Regions from separate parts of the Homo sapiens genome. Here region 2 is linked to region 1. The links come from fine-mapping of genetic effects on gene expression. Tissue or cell type: whole blood. Region 1 holds a variant in brackets; the other region holds the start of a gene. All regions are shown on one strand. Distances are between the middles of the regions.

Evidence for each region. PIP is the estimated chance that this variant, and not a neighbour inherited with it, causes the effect.
Region 2: it holds the start of EPHX1, and the variant in region 1 is fine-mapped to the expression of EPHX1 in whole blood (INTERVAL, PIP above 0.99).

Annotation. Positions count from the first base shown.
Region 1 is chr1:225,926,632-225,934,725 of GRCh38, forward strand. No RefSeq gene overlaps it. Among named protein-coding and RNA genes, the nearest start is that of PYCR2, 6.4 kb to the left of the region's middle. RefSeq lists a cis regulatory region at 1,607-2,259. The variant C/T (reference allele first, on the strand shown) is at 4,137.
Region 2 is chr1:225,806,023-225,814,126 of GRCh38, forward strand. It overlaps EPHX1 (epoxide hydrolase 1), which reads left to right and starts at 4,102. Exons shown (of 9, transcript NM_001136018.4): 1 at 4,102-4,147. RefSeq lists a silencer at 4,060-4,279.

The sequences.
Region 1 (8,094 bases):
AGATTTGTAAGGTCCAGTGGTTTGGGGCTTTAAGAGCTCCCATAGCTGCCATGTTGCAGCATAGCCTAATGGTTACCAGCGTAAAGCTCTGAAACCAGAAACCCAGCAGAAACCAAACTGGCTGAAGGAAAAGGGGGGCTTCTGTACAGCGCTTGGGAGAGGCACAGGGGAGCTCACAGACCAGAAGGGGCACCTACAGAGAGCAGGACCTCAGGAATGGAACTAGAACACTGCGCTGCCAGCACTTCCCCTCTTCTCTTTGTCTCATTTCTGTTTGCCTGCATTTGGCCTCCCTTTTGTTGTAGAGGAGTCTTTGTCAGGTAGTGAGGAAGTTGGGGGTTTACCCTCCTTCACAACTTCCTAATGCTGCCTGCTCCTCTGCAGGATACTCACCCTCCCCATAGTCCACCAGGGCACTGCAGGGCCCTTTGCTTTTCCTGGCTGTGGTCTGTTGTGGGGAGCTCTGGATCTGACCTGCAATACAGGAGGTTGTGCTGAAGCTGAATGTGTGTTTTGGAGTGAGGTGTGGGGGACACTTGTGTCTCACTCCTTTCTGACCCCTTACATACACCCATCCCTTACCTGGTTGCCTTGCGTTGATATCTCCCGTTTCCGCTTCCGGGAGCCAGGGTGAAATGGGAGAACTGCAAAAGCCTAAGAAAGGATGGCCGGGTGCGGTGGCTCACACCTGTAATCCCAGAACTTTGGGAGGCTGAGGCGAATGGACCACCTGAGGTCAGGAGTTCGAGACCAGCCTGGCCAACATGGTGAAACCCCATCTCTACTAAAAATACAAAAAATTAGCCGGATGTGGTGGCGGGCACCTATAATCTCAGCTACTCAGGAGGCTGAGACAGGGGAATTGCTTGAACCTGGGAGGTGGAGATTGCAGTGAGCCAAGATTGTGCCACTGCACTCCAGGCTGAGTGACAGTGTGAGACTCTGTCTAAAAAAAAAAAAAAAAAAAAAAAAGAGGCCATGTTGGTGACCCCCAGTGTTGGCTTCATCCCCAGCCAGGACTGGCCACATAAGACACGGAGTAGCAAAAGCACTTGCTCCCCTCAGTTTGGACTTAGGGCAGCAAGTGAGCCACTGACCACAAACTGTTCTTTTTTGTGGTAGTTTTGATCTATTATTTTTTCATCTCCAAAGTTTAAAGTTTATATATACAAAATCTATTATATTTTATTTTTTAAAAATATAAGATGGAAATAAAAAAGAGCAAAAGAGAAAAGAAAACAACAAAAAATAAAAACAAAGTAAGAAAACAAAAAAAACCCAAATATATGTATATATAAAATATATATATAAAATAGAGACGGGGTCTCACTATGTTAGTCTAGGTTGATCTTGAACTCTTGACCTCAAGCAATCCTCCCTCCTTGGCCTCCCAGTGTTAGGATTACAGGCATGAGCCACCGCACCCAGCCTGTTACCTATTTTAAATATAGGTAAGACCATTTTATTCTCTTTTAATGACCTTGCTGACTCTAACGTCCCATTTCCTTGGTGCTGTGGCCACTGCCTTGGTTTCTAAGGCAGTCACATCTGATGCCTGTGGAGTTCCTCTGAACTGAAGTTGAGGAGAGGAGAGGGGAAGCCCTTCGTTCCCATCCAGCCACCCTAAAGGACACCCCAGCCTTGCACTGCCATCCTGCCATGGGACATGCTCAGTCCCTGCTGGCACTTGTCTCCTTGGGCACCCACTATCCTTTTGCTGTCTCGGAGCAGACACGTCCACAAAGCTGCCAGGACTGCCCACCTTCACCCCTCTACTCCCATCCTCTCATCCACCAGTCAGGTTCTGCTGTTTGTACCCTTCCTCCCTCTTCACTCCCCTCTGTCCTGCCTGATGGCCCTCTCCAGCTGTCTCAGACAAAATGGATACTGCTTCACTTCTGTCTACTTCTGCTTCTTCACTATCAGGGCCTCAGGGCCTCCCTCTAAACAGCAGGCCAGTCTCTCCTATCTCTAAACAGCAGGCCAGTCTCTCCTAAGAACTGAGATGACCTAGGAAATGAGAGAGAAGCCTGTGCTGCTCCCAGATAAACAGATGGCAAGTGCCTTGGCCCTCAATCCTCCCTGTCCTAGGAGCCTCTCCAAAGAGGCGCATTTTTGAGTGCATTTTTGCATTCTTTTTGTTATTGCATAAATAATCCATGTTTATTTTAGAAAAATTAGAAATGAGATCAAATGGAAGGCTGGGTGCAGTGGCTCATTCCTGTAATCCCAGCACTTTGGGAGAACAAGGCAGGCGATCATTTGAAAACAGGAGTTCCAAACCAGCCTAGCCAACGTGGCAAAACCCTGTCTACTAAAAATACAAAAATTAGCCGGGCATCATGGCCTGCGCTTGTACTCCCAGCTACTCTGGTGGCGGATGCACAAGAATCGCTTGAACCCAGGAAGCGGTGGTTACAGTGAGCTGAGATCGTGCCACTGCACTTCAGCCTGGGCGACAGAGTGACACTCTGCCTCGAAAAAACAAAAAAGAAAGAGAACAAATGGAAAAACATTGTTTTCAATTCCACCACACAAAGATTTAGAACAAATGTGACCCTTTTGGAGAATAACTCTCTTCACTTCTTTTTCCCATGCAATAAGCACATTAAAACTTGATTTTGGCCGGGCGCAGTGGCTCATGCCTGTAATTCCAACACTTTGGAAGGCTGAGACAGGAGGATCACTTGAGCTCAGGAGTTTGAGACCATCCTGGGCAACATGGCAAAACCCTGTCTCTACCAAAAAATAAAAAAATAAAAATAAATAAATAATAAAAATAAAAAATTAGCCGAGTGTGGTGGTTCGTGCCTGTAGGCCCAACTACTCAGGAAGCTGAGGTGGCAGGATCACTTGAGCCTGGGAGGTGGAGGTTACAGTGAGCTAAGATCCTGCTACTGCACTCCAGCCTGAGCAAAAGGGTGAGACCCTGTCTCAAAAAAAAAAAGAAAAAGAAAAGAAAGAAAAAAAAGCAAACTATCGCAAGAACAAAAAACCAAACACCGCATGTTCTCACTCATAGGTGGCAATTGAACAATGAGAACACTTGGACACAGGAAGGGGAACATCACACACCAGGGCTTGTTGTGGGGTAGGGGGAGGGGGGAGGGATAGCATTAGGAGATATACCTAATGTAAATGATGACTTAATGGGTGCAGCACACCAACATGGCACATGTATACATATGTAACAAACCTGTACGTTGTGCACAAGTACCCTAGAACTTAAAGTATAATTAAAAAAAAAAGAAAGATAAGAAAAACTTTTTTTTTTTTTTGAGACGGAGTCTAGCTTTGTCACCCAGGCTGGAGTACAGTGGTGCAATCTCAGCACACTGCAACCTCTGCCTCCCAGGTTCAAGTAATTCTCCTGCCCCAGCCTCCTGAGGAGCTGGGACTACAGGTGTGCACCACCACACCCAGCTAATTTTTGTATTTTTAGTAGAGACGGGGTTTCACCGTGTTGGCCAAGCTGGTCTCGAACCCCTGACCTCAGGTGATCCACCCACCTTGGCCTCCCAAAGTGCTGGGATTACAAGCGTGAGCCACCATACCTGGCCAAAACCTTGATTTTTTTTTTTTTTTTTTTTTTGAGACAGAGTCTCGCTCTGTCGCCCCAGGCTGGAGTGCAGTGGCGGGATCTCAGCTCACTGCAAGCTCCGCCTCCCGGGTTCACACCATCCTCCTGCCTCAGCCTCCCGAGTAGCTGGGACTACAGGTGCCCACCACCACGCCTGGCTAATTTTTTTTGTTGTTTTGTTTTTTTTTTTTTTTAGTAGAGACAGAGTTTCACCATGTTAGCCAGGATGGTCTCCATCTCCTGACCTCGTGATCCACCCACCTCGGCCTCCCAAAGTGCTGGGATTACAGGCGTGAGCCATCGTGCCCAGCCAAAACCTTGGTTTTTAAAATAAGTATTTACTCATGCTGCATGGAAACAGGTGATATGCAAAAACCAAAATAATTTTGTTTTAGGATGGTGGGATTATGGGTGGTTTGCAATACATTAAAAATTATCTTTAATGTTATTTATTTATTTATTTATTTATTTATTTTTTGAGACAAGTTCTTGCTGTGTCACCCAGGCTAAAGTGTAGTGGCATCATCACAGCTCACTGCAGCCTCAACTTCCCAGG[C/T]TCAAACACTCCTCCCACTTCTGCCTGCCAAGTAGCTGGAACTACAACCACTACTCCTGGCTAATTTTTTGTATTTTTTAAAGTATAGATGATGGGGATGGTCTCACTATGTTGTACAGTTTGGTTTTGAACTCGCAGGCTCAAGCAATCTGCCTGCCTTGGCCTCCCAAAGCGCTGGCATTACAGGCTTGAGCCACTGCACCTGGCCCTTTATTTCATCTTTTAAGTGAAAAAAAATTGTAATTACATCCTACTTCTAATGGGATTTGGCTTACTGTCTGTATTAATTTTCTATTGCTGCTGTATTAATTCATCACAAATTTAGCTGCTTAAAATGAAACAACTTTATCTCACATTTTGTAGATTTAAAGTCTGAGTTTGAGGCCATGCTGGGCAATGTAGGGAGACCCCTGTCTTTACAAAAATTGTAAAAATTAGCCAGTATGGTGGTATGAGCCTGTAGTCCCAGCTACTTGGGGAGAGGGAGGTGGGAGGATCACTTGAGCCTGGGAGATAGAGGCTGCAGTGAGCTATGATCGTGCTTTACTCCAGTCTGGGTGGCAGTGAGACCCTGTCTTTAAAACAAAACAAAACAAAACAAAACAAAACAAGACAAAAAAACAGTCTGAGTAGCCTCAGCTGGTTTCTCTGCTCCAGGTCTCATAAAGACAAATCCCCATGTCAGCTGATAATCTGGGCTCTTATCTGGAGGCTCTGGGGGAGGATCCACCTTCAGACTCATTCAAGTGTTGGCAGAATTCGACTTCCATGTGGGTGTAGATCTGAGGTCCCCTTTCCTTGCTGGCTATCAGCTGGGAGTCAGCCCACCTTTTAGAGGCCACTCACATTCTCTAGCTCATGGCTTCCCTCATCTTCAGACCAGCAATGGCAGGGCAAGTCCTTCTCATGCTTCAGATCTCTTTGACCTCTCCCTTCTACCTCATCTCTCCTGCCTCCAGCCAGAGAAAGTTCTCTGCTTTGAAGGGCTCATGTGATTAGATTGGGCACACTCAGATAATCCACGATAATCTCCCTATTTTAAGGTTTGTAACCTTAATTACATCTGCAGAGTCCTTTTTGCTATGTAACATAACAGTCACAGGTTGCAAGGATTAGGGCCCAGGTGTCTTTGGGGAGAGCGTTCTGTCTACCACACTGTCTCCCTATCCTAATGAGCACGCCTTACATTTTGAAATGAAGCCAATCTCCTACATTTTTTTTTTTTTTTTAGCTCACACTCAGCCTGGTGTGAGCAGGCCCATCTTTGTCACTGATTGCATGTGACTGCCTGGGAATCCACAGATCTTTTAGAGCCACAGATACATCACTGTGTAACTGGTAGAGTTCTTCAGGTGGATATTGATATCCTTCTGGTACACAAAGCAACCATATGCCCTGGTATTTACAATACCCCAACTGGAAAATCTTGGCCCTCTTTAGACATTTTTTAGCTCTATTTTTCTTCTGTTATGATTTTAATTTTTTTTTTGAGACAGAGTCTGGCTCTGTCACCCAGGCTGGAGTGCAGTGGCACAATCTCGGCTCACTGCAACCTCCACCTCCCAGGTTCAAGTGATTCTCTACCTCAGCCTCCTGAGTAGCTAGGATCACAGGTGTGCACCACCATGCCCAGCTAATTTTTGTATTTTTAGTAGAGATGGGGTTTCACCATGTTGGCCAGGCTGGTCTAGAACTCCTTGGCCTAGAGCGATCTACCCGCCTCAGCCTCCCAAAGTGCTGGGATTACAGGCATGAGCCACCACACCCAGCCTATTTTTCTCTTATTATTTAGTTAGTATTAATTAGCTTTGCAGGTAAGAAATAGAGAGTCCTTTATCCCGAAGTACAGCCATGCCTCACTTAACAATGGGGATATTGGCCTGGTGCGGTGGTTCATGCCTGTAATCCCAGCATTTTGGGAGGCCAAAGTAGATGGATCATGAGGTCGGGAGTTGGAGACCAGCCTGGCCAAGATGGTGAAACCCTGCCTCTACTAAAAAATACAAAAATTAGCTGAGCGCGGTGGCGGGTACCTGTAATCCCAGCTACTTGGGAGGCTGAGGCAGGAGAATCGATTGAGTCTGGGAGGCGGAGTCTGCAGTGAGCTGAGATCACACCACTGCACTCTAGCCTGGGTGACAGAGCAAGACTCCAACTCAAAAAAAAAAAAAAAAAAAAACGATGGGGATGTGTTCTAAGAAATGCATTGTTAGGCGATTTCATTGCTGTGGAAACATCATGGAGCGCACTCACATAAACCTACACGGTGGAGTTTACTACACACCTAGACTATGTGGTGTAGCCTATTGCTCCTAGGCTACAAACCTGTGCAGCATATTACTGTACTGAATACTGTAGGCAATCGTAACACAATGGTAAGTATTTGTGTATCTAAACATACCTAAACATAGAGAAGATATAGTAGAAATATAGTGTAAAATATTTTAAAATGGCACAACATCTATAGGGCACTTGCCATGAATGGAGCTTGGAGGAGTGGAGGTTGCTTTGGGTGAGTCAGTGAGTGAGTAATGAGTGAATGTGAAGGCTTAGGACATTACTGTACACTACTGTAGACTTTATCAACACTGTATACTTAGCCTACACTAAATTTGTAAAAATAAATTTTTCTTTCTTTAATAATTGACCTTAGCTTACTGTAACTTTTTTATAAACGTTAAATTAAAAAGAAACTTTTTGACTCTTTTTTTTTTTTGGAAACGGAGTCTCACTCTGTCACCAGGCTGGAGTGCAATGGTGCGATCTCAGCTCACTGCAACCTCTGCCTCCCAGGTTCAAGTGATTCTCCTGCCTCAGCCTCCCGAGTAGCTGGGATTACAGGCATGCACCACCATGCCCGGCTAATTTTATATTTTTAGTAGAGAAAGGGTTTCACCATGTTGGTCAGGCTGGTCTTGAACTCGCGACCTCAGGTGATCCGCCCACCTCAGCCTCCCAAAGTGCTGGGATTACAGGCATGAGCCACCACACCTGGCCAACTCTTTTGTAATAACAATTAAAACAGAAACATATTGTACAGATTTATACAATATTTTTCTTTTTATCCTTATTCTTTTATTTTTTTGGAGGGGAACAGAGTCCTGCTCTGTTGCCCAGGCTGGAGTCCAGTGGTGTGATCTCGGCTCACTGCAACTTCTGCCTCTCGGATCCAAGTGATTCTCCTGTCTCAGCTTCCCGAGTAGCTGGGACTATAGGCATGCGCCACCATGCCCAGGTAATTTTTTTGTATTTTAGTAGAGTTGGGGTTTCACCATGTTGCCCTGGCTGGTCTCAAACTCCTGAGTTCAGCCAATTTGCCACCTCGGCCTCCCAAAGTGCTAGGATTACAGGCATGAGCCACCGCGCCTGGCCTCTTTTTATCCTTATTCTATAAACTTTTTCTATTAAAAAGTTTATTTTTTTTCTAATTTTTAAGTTTTTTGTTAAAAAATAAAACACAAACACACACAGTAGCCTAGGCCTACACAGGGTCAGGATCAGCAATATCACTGTCTTCCACCTCCACATCTTGTCCCAGTAGAAGGTCTTCAGGGGCAATAACATATACGGAGCTGTCATCTCTTATGATAACAATGCCTTCTTCTGGATTCCTCCTGAAGGAACCGCCTGAGCCTGTTTTACAGTTAACTTTTTTTTTTTAATAAGTAGAACGAGTACTCTAAAATAATAAAAAGTATAGTAAATACATAACAGTAACAGTCACTTATCAAGTATTATATACTATATATAATTACATGTGCTGTGCTTTATTTTATTTATTTTTTGAGATGGAGTCTCACTCTGTTACCCAGACTGGAGTGCAGTGGTGTGATATCAGCTCACTGCAACCTCCGTCTCCAGGGTTCAAGTGATTCTTCTCCTGTCTCATCCTCCTGAGTAACTGGGACTACAGGCACCCGCCACCACGCCTGACTAGTTTCTGTTTTTTTAGTAGAGA
Region 2 (8,104 bases), 120 kb before region 1:
TTTTTCTGCTTTTTGCCTTGTCTCTGTTGCCTGTGAGCAATTTTTCTCTATTTTGGGCTTTGCCTTTCATGTCACAGGCTTTGCCCAAGTGTTTGGTGATCCTTCAGTATTTAGAAATGAGACACTAAAACATCAATTGAAAGTTCTGTGTGTGGTGGGTAGTAAACTGATTGGCCTCAATGGCAGGTGATCAAATAGGGAGTCAGCTGTTTTGTTATGGGGCCTCTGAATGTCATTAGCTGTAGATAATGGTAATTAATGGCAGTAAACTTACAGTAAAGTTGCAAAACTCCCATACATGTCTTACCCAGACACTAATTGTTAACACTTTGCTGCATTTGCTTTCTAATTCAATATCTCTGTGTGTGTGTGTATATATATACACACACATATATACACACACATATACACACACACATATACACACACACATATATATACATACACACATATATACACACACACACATATAGTTCCTATATATGTGTACACACTGAAACATTTTAAATTTCAAACATGATTCCTTAAATATTAGGTTGGTGCAAAAGTAATTGTGGTTTTTGCCATTGAAAGTAATGGCAAAACCGCAAATACCTTTGCACCAACTGAATACTTCAGTGTACATTTTTTTAAGATCAGTGACGTTCACTTAAGAAACAATTCAGTTTTCAAACTCAAGATATTTAACATTAATATAATCTATTATTGAATCTACAGAACTCCTTCAAATTTCCCCAATTGTCCCAACAATATTCTTTATATAAATTTTTTTTCTGGGCCAGGATCCAATCTAGAACAGAGAGCACTGCAATGAGGTTTCGCAGCTCTTTTGTCCCCCTTAATCAGGAAGAGCTTCTCAGTCTTTCCATATCTTTCATTACATTGCCCTTTTTTCACACTGACATTTTTGAAAAGTGCAAGCCAGCTATTTTGTAGATTTTTTTTTTTTTTTTCGAGATGGAGTTTCGCTCTTGCTGCCCAGGCTGGAGTGTGCAATGGTGTGATCTCTGCTCACCACAACCTCTGCTTCCTGGGTTCAAGTGATTCTCCTGTCTCAGCCCCCCAAGTAGCTGGGATTACAGGCATGCACCACCATGCTGGGTTAATTTTGTATTTTTAGTAGAGACGGGGTTTCTCCATGTTGTTCAGGCTGGTCTCAAACTCCTGACCTCAGGTGATCCACCTGCCTCGGCCTCCCAAAGTGCTGGGATTACAGGCCTGAGCCACCGCACCCAGCCTGTAGAATGTTAATGTCGGGTTTGTGCAATGTTTCCTCATGATTCTATCCATATTGTGCATTTTTGGCAGAAACAATGTTGTTTCCTTTTTGTTGAATCAGGAATTGATCTACAATTTTTATCCAAGATTGCCTCCCACACATTATTTCATTCTACCTGATGTACCTGGAAACTCTCCAGATGTTTATGCAGAACAACAGCCTTGCTCTGATTTTTTACACAATATAATTTATTCTAAAGAGCACACTGTACCCATTCTTTTGCCCCGTAAACCTTTCAATGGCTTTTAGCCAAAAGCAGTGAAAATCTGTCTAAATTTTGCCCTGCTGAGTTGGACTCTGATGCATTTGTTTCTACACTGCCCATATGTAGACTGTACTTAGAAATATCTTGCACTATTTTAGATTTCGCAGCCCAACGCTGGATGGATGATTAACCAAGTAGGAGGGTATTAGGATACAAGAGGTTGCCATTTTAATGCAGTTTTTGAAAAACAACAGCTTTGGCCACACCTGGTGGCTCACGCCTGTAATCCCAGTACTTTGGGAGGCCAGGGCAGGCAAATCACTTGAGGTCAGGAGTTTGAGACCCACCTGGCCAACATGGTGAAACCCCATCTCTACTAAAAATACAAAAATTAGCTGGGTGTGGTGGCAAGTGCCTGTAATTCCAGCGGCTTGGGAGGCTGAGGCACGAGGATCACTTGAACCTGGGAGGCGGAGGTTGCAGTGAGCCGAGATTGTGCCATTGCGCTCCAACCTGGGCAACAGAGTGAGACTGTATCTCAAAAACAAACAAATAAATAAATAAAATAACAACTGTATTGAGACATAATTCACATACCCATAAAACTCACCCTTTAAGAGTGTAAAATTTCACGGGTTTTGGTATATTTACAGACTTGTAGTGATGTAACCATCACCAATATCTAATTTTAGAAGAGTTTTGATGCAGGGCAGCTGAGACCCCAGATTGGGTCTCAGCCCAGCAGGGTTTTTAGCTTTGTCCAGGAAAGAATTCAAGAGAGAGCCCGTGGTGTGAGACAGCAACTTTTATGGAGGTGGCGGTGTCCAGCAGCAGCAGAGGGGGCCTGCTCCTGCAGTGCAGGGCTGCCCCACAGGCAGTGTGCTGAGAGCAGCAGCTCTGGGCGATTCTGCAGTCATGTTGATACCCACTTTTAGTTACATGCAGATTAAGGGGCAGTTTATGCAGACATTTCTAGGAAAAGGGTAGTAACTTTTGGGTCCTCGGGTCATTGCCATGGAAGGGGGGTGATAACTCCAGGGGCGTGCCCTGGTAAACTGACATGGCACACTGATATGATGGGCATATCTTATGCTCATCTTCCACCCAGTCCCTGTTTTAGCTAGTCCTCAATTTGGTCCTCAATCTGGTGTCCAAGCCCCACCTCTGGCGTTAAGTCCTGACTCCTACCTGTTTCACCATCACTGCAGTTTTAAGAGTAACGAATTTGGGTCCCCTGGTGAAGTGGCCAGAGGCAGAGCTTCTGTGTGAACTATTTGGAGGGGAGGGGAAAGAACTCTCCCAGACTGCAGGTTCTGAAAGGAATACAGAGATGTCAGAGACTGCAGTTGCAAGAGAAAGCTTTTATAGGAGGGTGTAGAATTAAAGGACAAGAGGACTCTACATGTGGATGGAGGAGGGCACCCTGTCCGGCAGTACTGCAAGAGCAAAAGTTTGGAGGTGGGAGTGAGGTGAGTGCGTCTGCCGGCCAGAATTCTTGGGCCAGGGTGAGCAGAAAGGTTGGAGGCCAAGGGAAGGTGGGTGGTGGTGAACCTTATCCTGAAGTGTGCAAGGTGACAGTCAGAAGCTTAGAACTCCAGCCACGGGCCCTGCATGTGGCCTCCTAGCTGTAGTCTGTCCACCGAGATCGTGAGGATGCTGGTGGTTGAAAGAACTGCACCTCTGAGCAGGTGAAGAGAGAAGCTAAGGAGGGGTGATGGCAGAGGCGATGGGACAGGCTTTCTAACGATGAGGGGCTGGGGATCAACGCTCTCACGGAAGCTAAAAGAGCCCCAGCAACCACCCGCCTGGGCCCTGAGCTCTCTCCAAAGCGGGAGGGGATTCACTAAGAGGTTGCTCCCCTGGCATTGAACTCAGCATCCTATACTGGTCCTCACCATGAAGACCCCCAAGAGTGCTTCAGACCATTGCTTCTCACATTCTCTGTATAAAGACACTAATTTGTTTTTAGATTTCCAAGCATGTCACGGACCAATATGTTTGTTAAATATACTAAGAATGAATTGCTAGAAAGATGAAATTAAAAAGACATACACCGCCAGGTGCAGTGGCTCACGCCCATAATCTCACCACTTTGGGAGGCGGAGGTAGGTGCATCGCTTGAGCCCAGGAGTTCAAGATCAGCCTAGGCAACAAAGTGAGACCCCCGTATCTACAAAACTTAAAAAATTAGCCAGGTGTGGTGGCGCAGTCTGTAGTCCCAGCTATTCTGGAGGCCGAAGTGGGAGGATCGCTTGAGGCTGCAGTGAGCCGAGATCGCACCACTGCACTCCAGCCTGGGTGATAGAGTGAGACTCTGTCTCCAAAAAAAAAAAGGACATACATCATGCAAGTTTGGATTTTTGTTTTTAGATTCAACTGACGAAGTTACGGGATCAAACTGCTGTAGGAGCTGCCAAACGCTTCTCTCCATTTCTGGCCGCGGGGCCGCGGACCGCCCTTTAAGTAGCCCGTTTTATCCCTGGCAGAGGTGGAGCCTTAGGCAGGCCTAGAGACTTTCCCGGGTCCTCCAGGCCGGGGAACGCCCCGCTCGGAGGCCGGGCTTGGGCGGAGACTGCGCCGGGGCTGCTGAAAACTAGCCGAGGAGAGCCAGGGAGCCGGAGAGATCGCGCGCCTGCCGCCGCCGGAGCCTGCGAGCCGAGACCGTAAGCGCCCGGGGCCGGCCGGGCCCGCACTCCCCGGACGCAGACGCGGTTCGGGCTCCGCGCGGGCTCGGCCGCCGGGGTGGGCGGCGGGCCGGGGCGCCGAGGGGTCGGGGCTGCGGTCGGCCCGCAGGGGTGCAGAGGGACTTGTAGTTGGTCCGCCCCCAGCTCCTGCCCCGGCCAGGAGACTGCGCGTGCCGCCTACTGGGGGAAGGAGCCTGCAGGCGACCGCGGACTTCTCGCAGGGAATTCCGCGTCCCAGACTGTGGGCGGACGCCGCAGGGAGGGAGGCTCGCGACCCCGAGAGCGCACCGCGTCCCCTGGCCTGGGCGAGCTCTGCTTCCAGGGCCGTGGCTCGCTCGGCGGTGAAATGCACTTAATTTGTCACCCAAGTCGGAACACTGATTTTCATGCGCGTCCGTGTGAAGAGACCACCAAACAGGCTTTGTGTGAGCAACATGGCTGTTTATTTCACCTGGGTGCAGGCGGGCTGAGTCCGAAAAGAGTCAGCCAAGGGAGATAGGGGTGGGGCCGTTTTATAGGATTTGGGTAGGTAAAGGAAAATTACAGTCAAAGGGGGGTTCTCTGGCGGGCAGAGTGGGGGGGGTCACAAGGTGCTCAGTAGGGGAGCTTTTGAGCCAGGATGAGCCAGGAGAAGGAATTTCACAAGACAATGTCATCAGTTAAGGCAGGAACAGGTCATTTTCACTTTTGTGGTGGAATGACATCAGTTAAGGCAGGAACCGGCCATCTGGATGTGTAGGTGCAGGCCACAGGGGATATGATGGCTTAGCTTCGGCTCAGAGGCCTGACACTGATCACACCTTTTAGTTGAAATGCGCTTTCATCTCCATCTGCTGCCGCAGCCGCCGCCCGGCACCCCCTCGCTCTGGTCTCGGGATTGAAGGCCAGCCCTCTCCTCTTGTAGAACAGGAAACTTGCCCGGGAGTTCACCTTGTAGTTGAAGCCAGGGAATGTGGTCAACCTGAGCAAAAGCGCCGCGGAGACCGAGTGGCCGCCTGCCTCCCTCCCTGGCAGATGTCGGTTTTCTCTGAGCTTCTGGCTCCTTCCTTGCCCTGGCGGCTCCCGAGATCTTGGAGGTGGGGTGCCTAGCAATGTTGTAATCCTAATTTTGACTTTTTTTTCTTAAAGTTGAATGCCCCCTCCATAGCCCACCTCCCATTGTTTAAACTTCAGGTTCCGCAAAGCCTGGATCCGCCCCTACAGGCAACACTCGTTGTCCTGGAAGTTCTGTGAGGGCTCAGCTTGTGGCTGGAGGTGGGAGGTGAGGGGGACCCATGCACTTGGCAGGCCCGCTTCCAGGACAGCCCTTTGCTGGGATTGATGAGCTGTTGGTGGAAAATTGTTGAGGACCTTGGGGTTGGTGGCTGTTTCGGTACCACTGTGCAGCCTCCTCTGCATCCAGCATAATTTAAAATAAACATTTTCAGGAAGCCACACTTCTCCAGAAAGTAACATTGTTTTCTGGTGTAACGGTTGCCTCCTTCAGGGAGCTAGGTTTGGGGGATAATAGGGGGCCTTTCACTGGCCCCACTTGGTCTGACTTAGCAGCAAAAACTCTGCGAGTGCTCTCCAAGCAGTTTTTCTTTCCCAAATTTCCACACCTAGGAGGCGCTGAGGAGGCATGGGCGGTACTTAGGAACTGCTCACTGTGGAACTGAGGCACAGCGGGGAGCATGCCCTCGTGGGATTTGCAGTTCTAGGGGCAGAGGGATAATAAACAAAATACATTTGTAAACTATAAAGTATGTTAGAAGATGATGTGTAATATGGAGATAAATAAAACTTTAAAGAGGGGAGAGGAGTGCCAGGTGGAAAGGGAAGGCCTCACTGAAGGGTGGCACTGGCATAGACCTGAAGAGTTAGGGAGCAGCCAAGCTGCTGCCTGGGGTGCAGGTGCAAAGGCTGGGGGCAGGAGTGTGCCCAGCTTGAATGGCCTGATGTTTGTGTTTGCAGAGTGTGGGTCAAGCTGATGAGTGACCTACTGGATAAACTGAACTAGCTCAGTCTGTAAGTGAGGGGACTCCTGAGCTTTCTGCGGCCTTCTTCCCAATTCCAGGAAAGGAAGGACCTTCCACAGAAAATAACTACTCAGCAAGACAGCCAGGGTGAACCTCAGCACCATCTGTGACAAGCCACATGCTCTCTGCGTGATGCCTCCTGCCTCTCAGCTGTGCCTGAAGCACACTAGCTGGCATGGACTTACGCGGCTGGGAACATCTTCAGGAAGCCCTGAATGAGGGCTCTGTGGGCAGAGGGACCTTTGCAGAAAGGGCATCTTGACCACTGCAGGAGGTGGAGTGACTCTCCTGGGGTGTCCTGGTTCCTGCCTGATGTCTTAAGCATAACTGGCATTTTCAGGGAGCCCAGGTTCACCAATGCACAGTGCCCCTCCTGTCGACCTGATACCCAGGCTTGGTGATTGCTCACCTGGCACCTTGATTCCCGTTCTGGTATCTTGGCCCAGGCCCAGACATGTGAAAGCAGGGGCTACCGAGATTCATTTCTCAGTTCTTACGCCAAGAGGTTCAACCACATGGATCACAGCTGGGTGTACCAAATAAGGGAGGACCAAGCATGAGCTGGTCACCCCTGCTGAAGAAGTAGCTCGAAGCCCACCCACTCGGGGACAGAGTGGGCACAGATGGGATAGACAGATAGTGATTCGAGGGGTGCCTAGGATCTCATACTGAAAACCCACCTCTGCTAGGGCCATAAATCCCATCAACAGCAATTCATTCCTTTGAGAGGTAATACAGTGATGTGGGAAGAGGATTGGGCTGGAAAAAAGACTTGGCTCATGTCCCAGCTCTGCCATTAATGTGTCCCCTCTCTGGACCTCATCTGTAAAATGAGGTTAGGCTCAGCGATCTGCAGGCCTTCTTGCAGCTCTGCTATGTGATGATTCTGTGGCAAAGTCTGAAGGGATTTCAGGAAAGGAATGTGTAGGAGGGAAACAGTAAGTTTTGAAGGGACTCAGTGGGCCCTGTAGCCTCTGCTGGGTCCAGTGAAGACACTTCAACTAGAGTGAAGGCCCTGGCCACAGGGTAGGGGAGGCAAAATCTTAAGAGTTCAAGAGCCCTGAGTCAAGGCAGGAGGGTCACTGCCCAGCCCAGCTGGCCCCCTGGGCTGCCTGTGTGTGGTTCTTGACCCAGACCTAGTGGCTTAGGAGCAGAGTCTCCAAGGGGCTGTGGGATAAGGTGGGGATTGCAGGAGGGAGAAGGCACCCCAGCAGTTCCCCCGTTAGGGGACCAAAGCGTTGCCAAGGATCCAGCCACACCCCTCTCCTGAGGAGGGAGGAGCTGGTGGGCGCTCCAGGAAGAGCTTCCTCTCAACAAGGAGAAAACTGCGCAATCCAATCCTCCGTTATATAACTGAGCACACGATTGTGCAAACCAAGCTCACACTGAGCAGCCTCCCCTATTGTCAAGGTTTATTTACTTTCCCAGGGGAAGTCATAGTTCATCCTTTCTCAGCAGAAAGCAGCCATTTGACTGCCACAGCCTGACCTACGGCATTCCAGGAGATGGGTTCAGAGACCTGGTGTGGAGTCCTCATGCCCACCCGCCCTGCTGTCTGTGTCTTTCCGTCTGTTGCCTGGTGGGTGGGTGTGGTTTAGTGCATGGTCCAGCCCCCGCACAGCCACACCCATTAGGCTCTCCAAGGCCTAACTGAGCAAGCTTGCAGAAGAGGGGAAAGTGTTCTTTTCTCTGAGGAGTTAAAGAGACTTCTGGAAAATTCTCCAGCTACTCCACAAACTAGGATCACAGGCCTTGTTCTTAGGTCGGGAGCAGGAGTTTTTGCTGCCTTTAGCATTTGGGAAGTTTGATGAATAGAGACTGAATTTGAATGTCTTTTTGGTACTTAAGAGCTGGATTAACTACTTCACATATCTGAGCTTCATTTTTAATTCTTTTTAAAACAGAAAAAGTGGCTGGG